Regions from separate parts of the Homo sapiens genome. Here region 1 is linked to region 2. The links come from fine-mapping of genetic effects on gene expression. A gene starts in region 2. The other region holds a variant in brackets. All regions are shown on one strand. Distances are from middle to middle.

The links. PIP is the estimated chance that this variant, and not a neighbour inherited with it, causes the effect. A credible set is the group of variants that fine-mapping cannot tell apart.
Region 1: its variant is the best candidate, but not a certain one, in a credible set for the expression of LIN54 in blood mononuclear cells (TOPMed, PIP 0.79).

The regions. Positions count from the first base shown.
Region 1 is chr4:82,923,761-82,929,141 of GRCh38, reverse strand. LIN54 (lin-54 DREAM MuvB core complex component) reads left to right here. Exons shown (of 13, transcript NM_194282.4): 13 at 839-4,539. The coding sequence ends at 1,040. Among named protein-coding and RNA genes, the nearest start is that of THAP9-AS1, 26 kb to the right of the region's middle. The variant T/C (reference allele first, on the strand shown) is at 2,768.
Region 2 is chr4:83,008,691-83,014,071 of GRCh38, reverse strand. LIN54 (lin-54 DREAM MuvB core complex component) reads left to right here and starts at 3,249. Exons shown (of 13, transcript NM_194282.4): 1 at 3,249-3,588. RefSeq lists enhancers at 806-935, 543-1,428, 3,310-3,409 and silencers at 1,106-1,435, 3,160-3,239.

The sequences.
Region 1 (5,381 bases), 85 kb after region 2:
TACAGCTGCATGGCAGCCTGAATTCTCAATTACCCTCTCTTGCCATAGTGAGCTTTAATTTCAGACTTCATTATTTAGTATACTTCTGTTAGTGACCGCTTACTCACAGGTTGTTGAGTTAGTGGTTTAGATTATGTTGCTTGACTTAATCTGTCACAGGCTTTAAGACTTGAGTTGGCTGCAAATATAGCAAGCCTCACGATGGGTTGCTCCAATTTAATACTCAATAGCTCAGGTCTTTATGAATGCAACTCTGTGTACAGAACATTTGGTTTCGCCATTTTGTTTTGTTGTGCTAGAACGATGCAGAATTTTGGAATGTTTTCTACAAACAGTATCAGTGACTATGGTAAAGTGCTTTATTTTTCATTTTGCCGAAGAGATAGTGCTGTCAATTCCCAGTATTATTCATTCATTCAGCAACTATTCATGTAGCGTCTCTATGTCATGCACTATTCTAGGCACTGGAGCAACAGCAGTAAATAAGAATTGAACTTACAGAGCGTACATTCATGATTTAGGAGGATTTTAGTTAAAGAAATTCTAGTCTTCGTGTAGACTATTATCTTTTAGTTAACCACATAACCTTGCCTAGGTAATAAGTAACGTGTTTTATGTTAAATTTCCTGAACAATATTCTTACAATATGTGAATAAAACCAAATTTAACTTTTTAAAGCCCTTTTTAGGATGTGCTTGTGCTCACTGTGTAAATTGTGATGCTCATCCTGCTGGTGAATTGTGAAAGTGTCAGTAGAGATTTCCAGATGAAAGAATGTTATCCACTTTTGTTGTTATTTAACACCACCATCATCTTTCTCTTTCAAAAATCATTTCAGATTGCCATTTACATTTGTAACTAAGGAAGTAGCTGAAGCCACATGTAATTGCCTCCTTGCCCAGGCAGAGCAGGCAGACAAGAAGGGAAAATCAAAGGCAGCAGCGGAACGGATGATACTTGAGGAATTCGGACGATGTTTGATGAGTGTCATCAACTCTGCAGGAAAGGCAAAAAGTGACCCTTGTGCCATGAATTGCTAACTCTTGCACAAAAGACTGATAAATGGAACTGTACAGAAAATTTAAGGTGCAGGGACACTTGATTTTCTGGAAGAAAAACAATTACTGTATTTTAATTCAGTCCTTGTTTTAAAAGACCTGAAATTATAATACTGAAGGAGAAGAAATTTTAAATGAGGAAATTAGTACATTTTAAATCTTAGTTAAATCTGCTTATGCCCCTTCTAAATTGAATTTTTCTTTATTATATAGATTTTTTAATTTGCTTGGGTTTCTTAAGAATTAGATGTTCTCTTTCTGATACCTTTGACAAAAAATGTTTATAAATTCATATAATTTATAATGTATGGTGTTGTATGACTTTGTTAATAGAAAAGCCAAAGCAGCAGTGGTTAGCACCCATTCTTTGGGACTTGATCTAGAATATCTGCAGACAGAATGTTACATAAACAAATTCTTATGAAACACATTCAAATGACATTTTGTATTTAGAAAAGGACTATCTTTTAAAGAAAAAGCAGCCTTTTAGGGCCGATTCTGGAATAATATCCTGTTGTCACTTTGGGAATGTCAGAAGGGGAAACAATCCCCAGGCACACTAAAAATTTTTTAAAGTTATTTAAAAAAACATATAAAATATTAAAGGACAGTAAATCTCAGAGGATGGGCAATGTGTTTCTATAATAAGGAAAGGCTAACAGATGCTCTGGGCTGTCTCCATTTTCTTTCAAAGAGGTGGTATGTATTTGAAGTAATAAATTGTCAAAGTGATTACTGGGTACTATTAAAATGATAGGTGGATATAAATGGAAGTAAACATTATGTAGTGATAATATAGAACCTCACATAGTAATCAAGTATAAAATTTGGCATGGGTGGAGAAACAAAGAATAGGGAAGCTGCAAAAGATGAATTTAGAGAAGTTTTCATCTATACAATCAATTATTTTTACAGACTTTTTTTTTTTTTTTTTTGAGACGGAGTCTCGCTGTGTAGCCCAGGCTGGAGTGCAATGGTGAGATCTCAGCTCACTGCAACGCCTCTGCCTCCCAGGTTCAAGCGATTCTCCTGCCTCAGCCTCCCGTGTAGCTGGGACTACAGGTGCATGCCACCATGCCCGGCTCATTTTTTGTATTTTTAGTAGAGACGGGGTTTCACCGTGTTAGCCAGGATGGTCTCGATCTCCTGACCTCGTGATTCGCCCGCCTCGGCCTCCCAAAGTGCTGGGATTACAGGCATAAGCCGCCGTGCCAGGCCCTTTTTATAGACTTTTGAACTAAGAGGTTTCAAACCAAATCGCAACTCTTACTTGATTTACAGAAATGGGCCTCCTAACAAAATTTTCAAAATTGTGGTGGGATTTCTTTTTATAAGGGAAGTTTAATATGGCATTATTTTCAGCCAGTGATTTGGAAGGTCTGTTTTCCTATAATTACTAAAATAACCTAAATCATTTTCAGTATTCAAAAACTCTATGAATTTAAGAGCCTGTTGTGACAGGACTCTTGATTTTATGACAAGAAAAAACCATGTTGGAATTCAGGCATTTTGTTAGGTACCTTAATCATCAGTAATTAGTATATGATTATTTCATTTCCTACAAGGACTCTATAGTTGTATGTATTAAGTGTGTATATATGTTCATATGAACATGCAAGATATAGGCAATAGAAATTAAGTAATCCAAAAGAGGATTCCGTTATTCACTAAAGTATCTTCCTTTTAAATTTGGATTTATAAAATCATAG[T/C]GCAGTAACTTTAAATGTAGATAGTTCAAACATTCTTAGCACCTCAATCTAGTATGTTTAATTAAAATTTGTATAAATGTAAATTAGTGTAAGAGGGTAAAATAATAATCAAGTTATTTTTCAAAAGATTGCAATAAGTTTTTGGTCTAAACTTAAACTTTGTTCATTTTGTACATACTCTGTGTTAATTCTAATTGCACCTTTGTGATGTGTATTTATATACAGTGTGCAGAAAATGTTCGTGAAATTTTGATTACAATTGTAGATTATGTATGATGGCATTGCTTACGAATGTTTTGCTTGTAAAAAAATTTCAAGGTGCAATCAAATGCTACTAGTTTTTCTGATTTTCAAAAATCTATCTATCTAAAATATTAAGCCTTTTCCTTCCTGTGTAGTACTTACTAAATAACTTTTTGTATTCAGGCATTTGCATCAAATTGCTGAACAAGATGAATAGCCACATTAATTCAATGATTTTAAAAGACTATTTGGGGAGGGTTGGGTATATAATTTTTTAGCTCTATTTACATCCCAAAGTAGAAAGATTAAATTTATATTTACTAGAGCTATTCAAAGAATACACTTTTCTATATTGTAAAAACAGGACAGCAAAGTAAATCATACAGAAAATAAACATTTATACTATTCTGTAAAAAAGGTTTTGCATTTTTTCTTTAGTATAATAACACCACTTTATTAACCATTTAATATGCAAAAAACCTTTTAAATTATCTGAAGTAAATTTGACATTACTTCTGAAAACACACAACTAAAAAATTCTATCATTTTGCTCAGTTATTACTAACATAAATTGCTTTGAAATGAGAATATGTCTTCTCTTTTTTTCCCCACTGTTTCTTTTAAGAGCAGAAACTCAGCCGGGCATGGTGGCTCACGCCTGTAATTCCAGCACTTTGGGAGGTCAAGGCGGGTGAATCACTTGAGTCCAGGAGTTCTAGACCAGCCCAGGCTACATGGTGAAACCCTGTCTCTACTAAAAATATAAAAAAATTCACTGCGTGTGGTGGCGCACACCTGCAGTCCTCGCTACTTTGAAGGCCTGAGCCTGCAGAGGTTGAGGCTGTAGTGAGTCAAAATTACACCACTGCACTCCAGCCTGGCAATCAGAGTGAGACCTTGTCTCAAAAACAAAAATACCTAGAAAATCAATCTACTCTGTCTTTTAATGTGAAATGTTCTTATGATAGCTATCTTTCTTAGTTTCCTTTTTTTCTGAAGCACTAAACACAACCTGTAGGTCTTATCTCTGGGGTCTGGGAAACAGAACCTTAATGTTACAGGTACAAAAGCAAACAGAGTGATTAGTTCCCCATTTTCTGGTAGTGAACAACTGACATTTTTTCAATCTTATGTAAAATGTGAATAAAAATAATTTTAGAAAAGTTATCTATTTTTATTGTTCTGTAACACAAATAGTTAAGAAAATGAATACTTGTTATGTAAATGAAGCTTCACAGCAGGACCTCCGGCCATAACTTTGATCATGTTGTATCTCTTAAGCATTTTATATAGGAATTCTGGTGTGGCTACCCAAAGCAGAAGGGAAGGCAATCAACTAAAAATCCCTTTCTATTGGAGTTATTTTCATCATGTAAATTACTTCAGGCTTTTCTTGTTAGGGCTTCTTGAATGCACATTTTGTCATTATCTGTATACCAAAGGTGAGCTTTTTTTTTTAATCCATGTGATTTTATGAGTTGAAAGCTATAAGGTTTTTTTTAATTAAAAATTTCCTTCTAAATGGCAAATTTTGTGACAGCATTTAAGACACTCAGTTTCTATTCAAAAGCAATAAGAAAACAAGTATGTTTAGGGTTATGTTTATTATAAGGTCACTGGGACTTTATAAAACTGTCATCTATCATACTGGCATATGAAATCTGGTCATAGTATTATAAAAAGAATACATCATGACCAAGTAGGGTTTATCCTGGGAATAAAAGTTGATCCAATGTTTTAAAAAAAACATAGTTCACTGTATCAGCATACAAATAAGAAAAGCTAAATGATCATCTCAAAAGTTGCAGAAAATGACTGTGGATATAGGTAAAACTGCTAAATTATATTTTCTTGTTTGTTTCTTGAGATGGAGTCTCACTCTGTTGCCCAGGCTAGAGTGCAGTGGTGCGATCTCAGCTCACTGCACCCTCTGCCTCCTGGTTCAAGCAATTCTCATGTCTCAGTCTCCCGAGTAGCTGGGGTTACAGGCATGCGCCACCAAGCCTGGCTAATTTTGTATTTTTAGTAGTGATGGGGTTTCACCACATTGGTCAAGCTAGTCTCCAACTCCTGACCTCAGGTGATCCACCCGCCTTGGCCTCCCAAAGTGCTGGGATTACAGGCGTGAGCCACCGCGCCCGGCCACTATATGCTTATTTAAGAGGGTAAATATTATGGTTATGTGAATTTTATCTCAGAAATTTTTTTACCCAAAAGGTGCAGAAAAACATATCTGGTAAAATTCAGCCACATATGATTCAATAAACAAAAAAATAAAGTCTTCAGAGAACTAAGACTAAACCTGATAAAGACCATTTACAAAAAAAGCCTACAGCTAACATACACATAGTGAAGAATGCTTTCCTTTAAG
Region 2 (5,381 bases):
ACTTTATCACATTACTTACACATGTCACAGACCTTCCCATTTTCAAGGCTTTGCTAATTTCATGACATTTGCCTTGTTAAATCCTGACTATTAGTGTTTGGGCTGGTACTGGGTGTTGATTATGGCACAAGGGAACTAACATTTCAGGCAGAGACTGTGTACCTGCTTAACACCCTTCATTTTATTTAACCATCAGAATCCTGGGAAGTTTTGTTATTTTTATTTGCTGGATAGGAAAATAAACGTTATACAATATACACTAATAAACGGAGGTGCCATTAAATACCAGTACTGCTTGATTCCAAAGTGACTGCTGCCTCCCCTACACTGTTTCACCTCCTCCATTATGTTCCCGAGGTAGTCTCTCATGCTGACCTGTATGTCCTCCGTACTCCATTAGCAAATTATACACTGTATCGCACCATCTTACATTTACACTCTTGTATTTTCTATTTTCGTATATGTAGTGCTTGTCGCACTCACAGCAGTTGATAATAATCTCTCAGAATAATTTTTTTTTCCCCTCAGAATGATCTGTCAGCGTCTGTTCATCCGACTCCGTATTTGGATATCATATAAATCGCGGGAAAAAATAAAAGGTGATTAAATACAAATAATTTTGACTGTGTTAGTCTTAGCTGCGTGTTGCAAGAAATGCAAAACGTCTTTCAAAATAAGTTTAACTCTCAATGAATCTCCCTGTGGCTTTTTAGCGACACTGCAAAACTAGTGCCTAAAAACACAGTGACTTGGCATTTGTGACTACTGATCACCTCCTCACTCAAGCACATCAAACAGCGGGATATCCTGGAAGTCGCACCTACAACCCGGACTTCCTAACAAGGAAAGCTAGACGAAGGGACGGTCTCTCCCAACCGCAGCGCGATGCGGGTCCTCCCCCCATCAGCTTCAGTCCGATGGAACATTCCGTGCGATCGCTTTGACCGGGCGCCACTCGGCGTCACGTGGAACTGGAGCGCCCTGGCGGAGCCCGGCGGAATGACGCGGGCTTGGGTTGCCAAGGGGAGGGACGAGGCGCCGCGGAAGAGGCGGAGCGAAGGAAGCCGGCCGTGGGGCGGGGTGCGGAGCGCAGGGGCGGGCAGAGAGGGGCGCGCGGGCGGGGAGGGCCCAGCGTATTATGGGATGCGGCGGTGGAATGGGGCTGGGCGCGTGATTTTGAACAAACCCTGGTCTGTGTCTCGGAGGCGCCGCCGCCGCCGCTGCTGCTGGGAGCCCAGGGAGCGCCGCGCGACCAGGAGGCGGCGGCGCCGCCGGCTTTGGTGAGTGTCAGCCCCCGGGATGGGGGCTCCTGGGCGGGCTGGCGGGAAGGGGGAACCGGCCCCCGCTGCGAGTGCCTGCGCGGGCGGAGAGCGCTGGACCGCTCCCTCCGGGAGCCCGGGCCGGTGGGCCTTGGCGGGGAGCGGGAACCCGCCAGCGGGGTCCGCCGCGCCCCTTCCCTGAAGCTGGGTTGCGGGGGGCGAAGGATCCTTGGGGCTCGGTCTCTTCCCGTCGGCTCCCGAGAGGGTGGCTGTCACCCGGCAGGGCCAGCGCTCGGCCAGCCGCCTGCCCGGCGGTCTGGAGTAAGGGCTCCTGCGGCTGTTGACACGCACACTGCGCGACCCAACAAGCCACCCGTGGCGGCCCCAGGTTTCTGGGAACCGGTTTTGCTGCTGTGTCATTTTGTGCCAGTCCCTCCTCTCCCTACTGCCCGCCGCCGCGTTCTTCCTATGCCCCTTTGTACAGGCTCTTGTTCGTGCGTGTCCGTTTTCCTCGCGAAGCCCACCAGCCAAATGTCATAATGTTCCCGAGGTGCACGGGGGAAGGGAGCGGGCCGGGACTTAGCTTGGCCAGCAACGGTAAACAACCAAGCAGAGTGCGGATGGACGGGGCCGTCAGTGGGGAAATGAAGTTTAAAGATGAAGTAATTGAGAACACTTTATACTCTCAGCATCTGGTAGTCTGCATATAAAAACAGCAATTGGGGTGGGTGGTGGACAGCCCTTGTTGAAGGCTGAATCTACCGACTTTTATATGGAGTTGCCATTGAAACAAGGTAGGGAAATGAAATGACTTTTTCAACTTCAACTTCAACCTTACTCTTCCTACACTAACTTAGACAGTAGAGTGGCCCTGTTCGCAGCCTTGAAATTCAGTTTGCCCAGAGCTTATGTTGTGGTTGAATGATACAGAATTCAGCTTTTGGATGGTTAACTCTTTCTAAAATTGACAAAGGCAGCCAGTTTCCTTTTTTTTTTTTTTTAATGCTGATCTCTTCAGAAGCCTTGCAGCTTATGTTTTGTTATTTTTTAAATGATTAAGAATTACCTCTGTTCTCTTTTGGTTACTTATTCAACTGACTGATGACAAGAGCTGGTAACTCTTACCTACCTAGTAGGTAGCTCTAGGATCTTGTTCTGAAGCAAGCTGTTTATTTTTACTGTACAGAACAAATATATCAGCAGCAGATGGTTTTTTTTTAATTTGATGACTTAGATCCTAAAAAAACATTTGGCAAATAATTTTAGCTAAGAGTTATATTTTCAATATTTTAGAAATCGATCATTCATGAATGTTTCTACAATTAGTTCAATCATTTCAAATCTAGTTGCGCTTTGACGTCTTAAACCGATGACAGATTGGAAGTCGCAGTGTTCATGGACAGAAATGACCAGATAAATTAAGTTGGAGAGGAAGATAGCTCAGAACTTTATTTTTTTAAATTAGATATTTTGACCACTTCATCTGCATGAGGATTGCTGCCTGTAATTGACAAAGGTGTCAAAGGTCGAACATGCATATGGAAATAGCTCATCCTGTCAAAGTAGTTCTGCGGGTGGGGTAAAATGTCAAAGTTGGTGAATGACATTAAAGGTCTTTCACAGTGTTTTTAGTGCCTGAGATAGCCACAGTGAATGAAACGCATTCCACCATCTCTCTCAAGTTGCTGCTCTGAAAATGAAAGAGTTTGGGTTCTTTATTGTCCTTATGCCACCCTCCGCATGGCTTTTGGTCTTGCAAACAAAAATATGCCGGACTTGGGACCCCGCAGGTGGCGCGACTTCCTTTGGCGTCCCTGCGGGGGCCCGTGCTCCGCCCGGGGGTGAAAGGTCTCGGCGTAGCCCGTGTGCACTTGCACGGCCCTTGTGCGTTTGAAGGTTGGCGGGGCGGCGGGAGGCTTCCCCGGATATGTGGGTGTGCGCCTCCCGGGTGGGGCGGGCGGGGAGGGGAGGAGGAGGAAGGGGGAGGTTACTGGTGGTGGCGGCGGCGGCGGCGGCCCGGGCTCCGGCTGTCGGGGAAGCTGCTGAGCTGTGATGGTGATGACGAGGTGAAAATGGCGGATCTTTCGAAATACAATCCCGGCCCCTGACATACCAGAGGCGGCGGCGACGGCGACGTCGCCACCCCGGCTCCCTTCTCGGTCCCCGGGTACCCTGGAGCGCTCCAGTTTGGACAAACTGGGAAAGGAAGCTGCTGGCCAGAGCTATCGTGCACGGGCAAAACAAGCCCCGCCGGGGCTCGGGATTGCCCAGGACCTTCTGGAGCCCCTACCTCGGAGCCCGAGGGAGGAGAAAGCGGCAGCCGCTGGAGGTAGAGGAGGATGGGGTACCCGAGGGCTTCTCTGTCCGGAGATCTCTTTATTTGGGGGGATGGGGGTGGGTGGGGAAAGAATTGCGCGGTGGATCAAGGAATGACTTGTCCGGAGTGCGAAGAATCAGTAGCCTCGTCATGACATCAACATTATTCTTTGAGTGTTAAGAGGGCTCCAGTTTGCTCTTATACCTAAGGCTGCTGCTGAGGCCTAGAGGAACCGCTAGCACTTATCATGATTTCCTGATATAATGTTTAAAACAGCCACTCTGGCGGGTGTTGCTTTGATGGTGTTCAGCAGTTCTTGGGGTTGTACGTTTCTTTAGGGAGGCAGAGCATTGGCATTTTATCTGCATTTAAGATCTGTGTCTTAGATCCTAGTCTGTAACTTGTTGGGTTGTGGATGTTCACATTTTATAGAATAGGGACCAGTTTTGTAAGAATTAGAAAAAAAATTTTTAATGCTCTGTTATCCTTAGAGTAACTAACCTCTTTGCCCCTGCCATTTGGCATATAACAATTGAGATACTCTCAGTTATATTTTATACTCATGCTTTTCAGGGAAGTTCTTCTCTATACTCACCCTCCTGCCCCCGCCAACCTAGTTCATGAATTCAGAGAGTAAAGTTATGAAAAATTTTGCTGTAGATTTTATAATGCAAATGAAATACAGCTCTAGGAGCTCTCTTTTGGTCCTGAGTTTTACCTTCATTGTTAAGAAGGAGAGTTGCGATGGGGTGATGCAAGCATTTGTTGTGAGTACATTAAGTTGGGAAAAATAAATTGAGACCTCTGTTATTTCTAAATCACTAAATGCTGGAGTGATTAGCCTAGCCCTTTGTTTAGAGAGCTGGATTGATTGACTATAACAGCCACTGTTTTATTAGGTTATCTGAAGACCCATGTTAAGTTTTAGGTTATGCTGAAAGATCCGTAAGGAGTCTGTCTCCTTGCACACAACACTAGTGTTACAGAAAAGTTACATGTGAATCAAATTTTTAGGCTGGGCAAAAAAATTTTTATACATTAATTTGGACCCTATGCTTTTCCCCCAGCTTTTTTGGGTCAATGACATTGAGTGTATAATGAACAGAAGGATTAGTATTGAGGAATGCCCATGGGTAATGTTTATGATTAGCCCTAAATTTCCGTATTCAAATTGTCTACAGAGAGTATATGTGATATTATTTCCTTATTCAAATTGTCTACAAAGAGTATATGTAACACACTGTGCCATAGTGTGTCATATATCACAAATTTTGTAGTTTACTTAGAGGGGAAATATTTTGTGTGAATAGGTGTGTATAGTTTGTAGGTCTGGCTTTCACTTACTAGAAGAATAAGAGACCCAAAAAAATTTTTAGGAGAAATACCTTAGAGGTACTCAGAAGGTTTAATGATGACGATAATGATTATTTTTTAAAAATAATTTGTCTGATGCTGTATTATTCAGTAGGTATTTGGTTTTGTCTTTTTAAAATTACAGTTTTTATGTTGCAGTTATTTGACCCATGCCTTATAGCTGCTGACTCAGTAGTAAGACTAAGAATTTTAAAAATAATTAAAATAGGGAGATTAAAAAGCTTTTTCATTGGCTTTCTTTTAATCACAGAGGGCTATTGTCTCTTTGTGATTCTTTGTGATTGTCTTTAAAGACCAGTTTTCAGATTGTCCTGGTTAGAACAATTGTGTATTAATAATTAAAAGTGTGTTAGAAATGAAGCAAGAATTATACCACCAGAGATAGTCCAGTGTTCATTTTTTGGGGGAAGAGTATTATAGATTTTCACTAC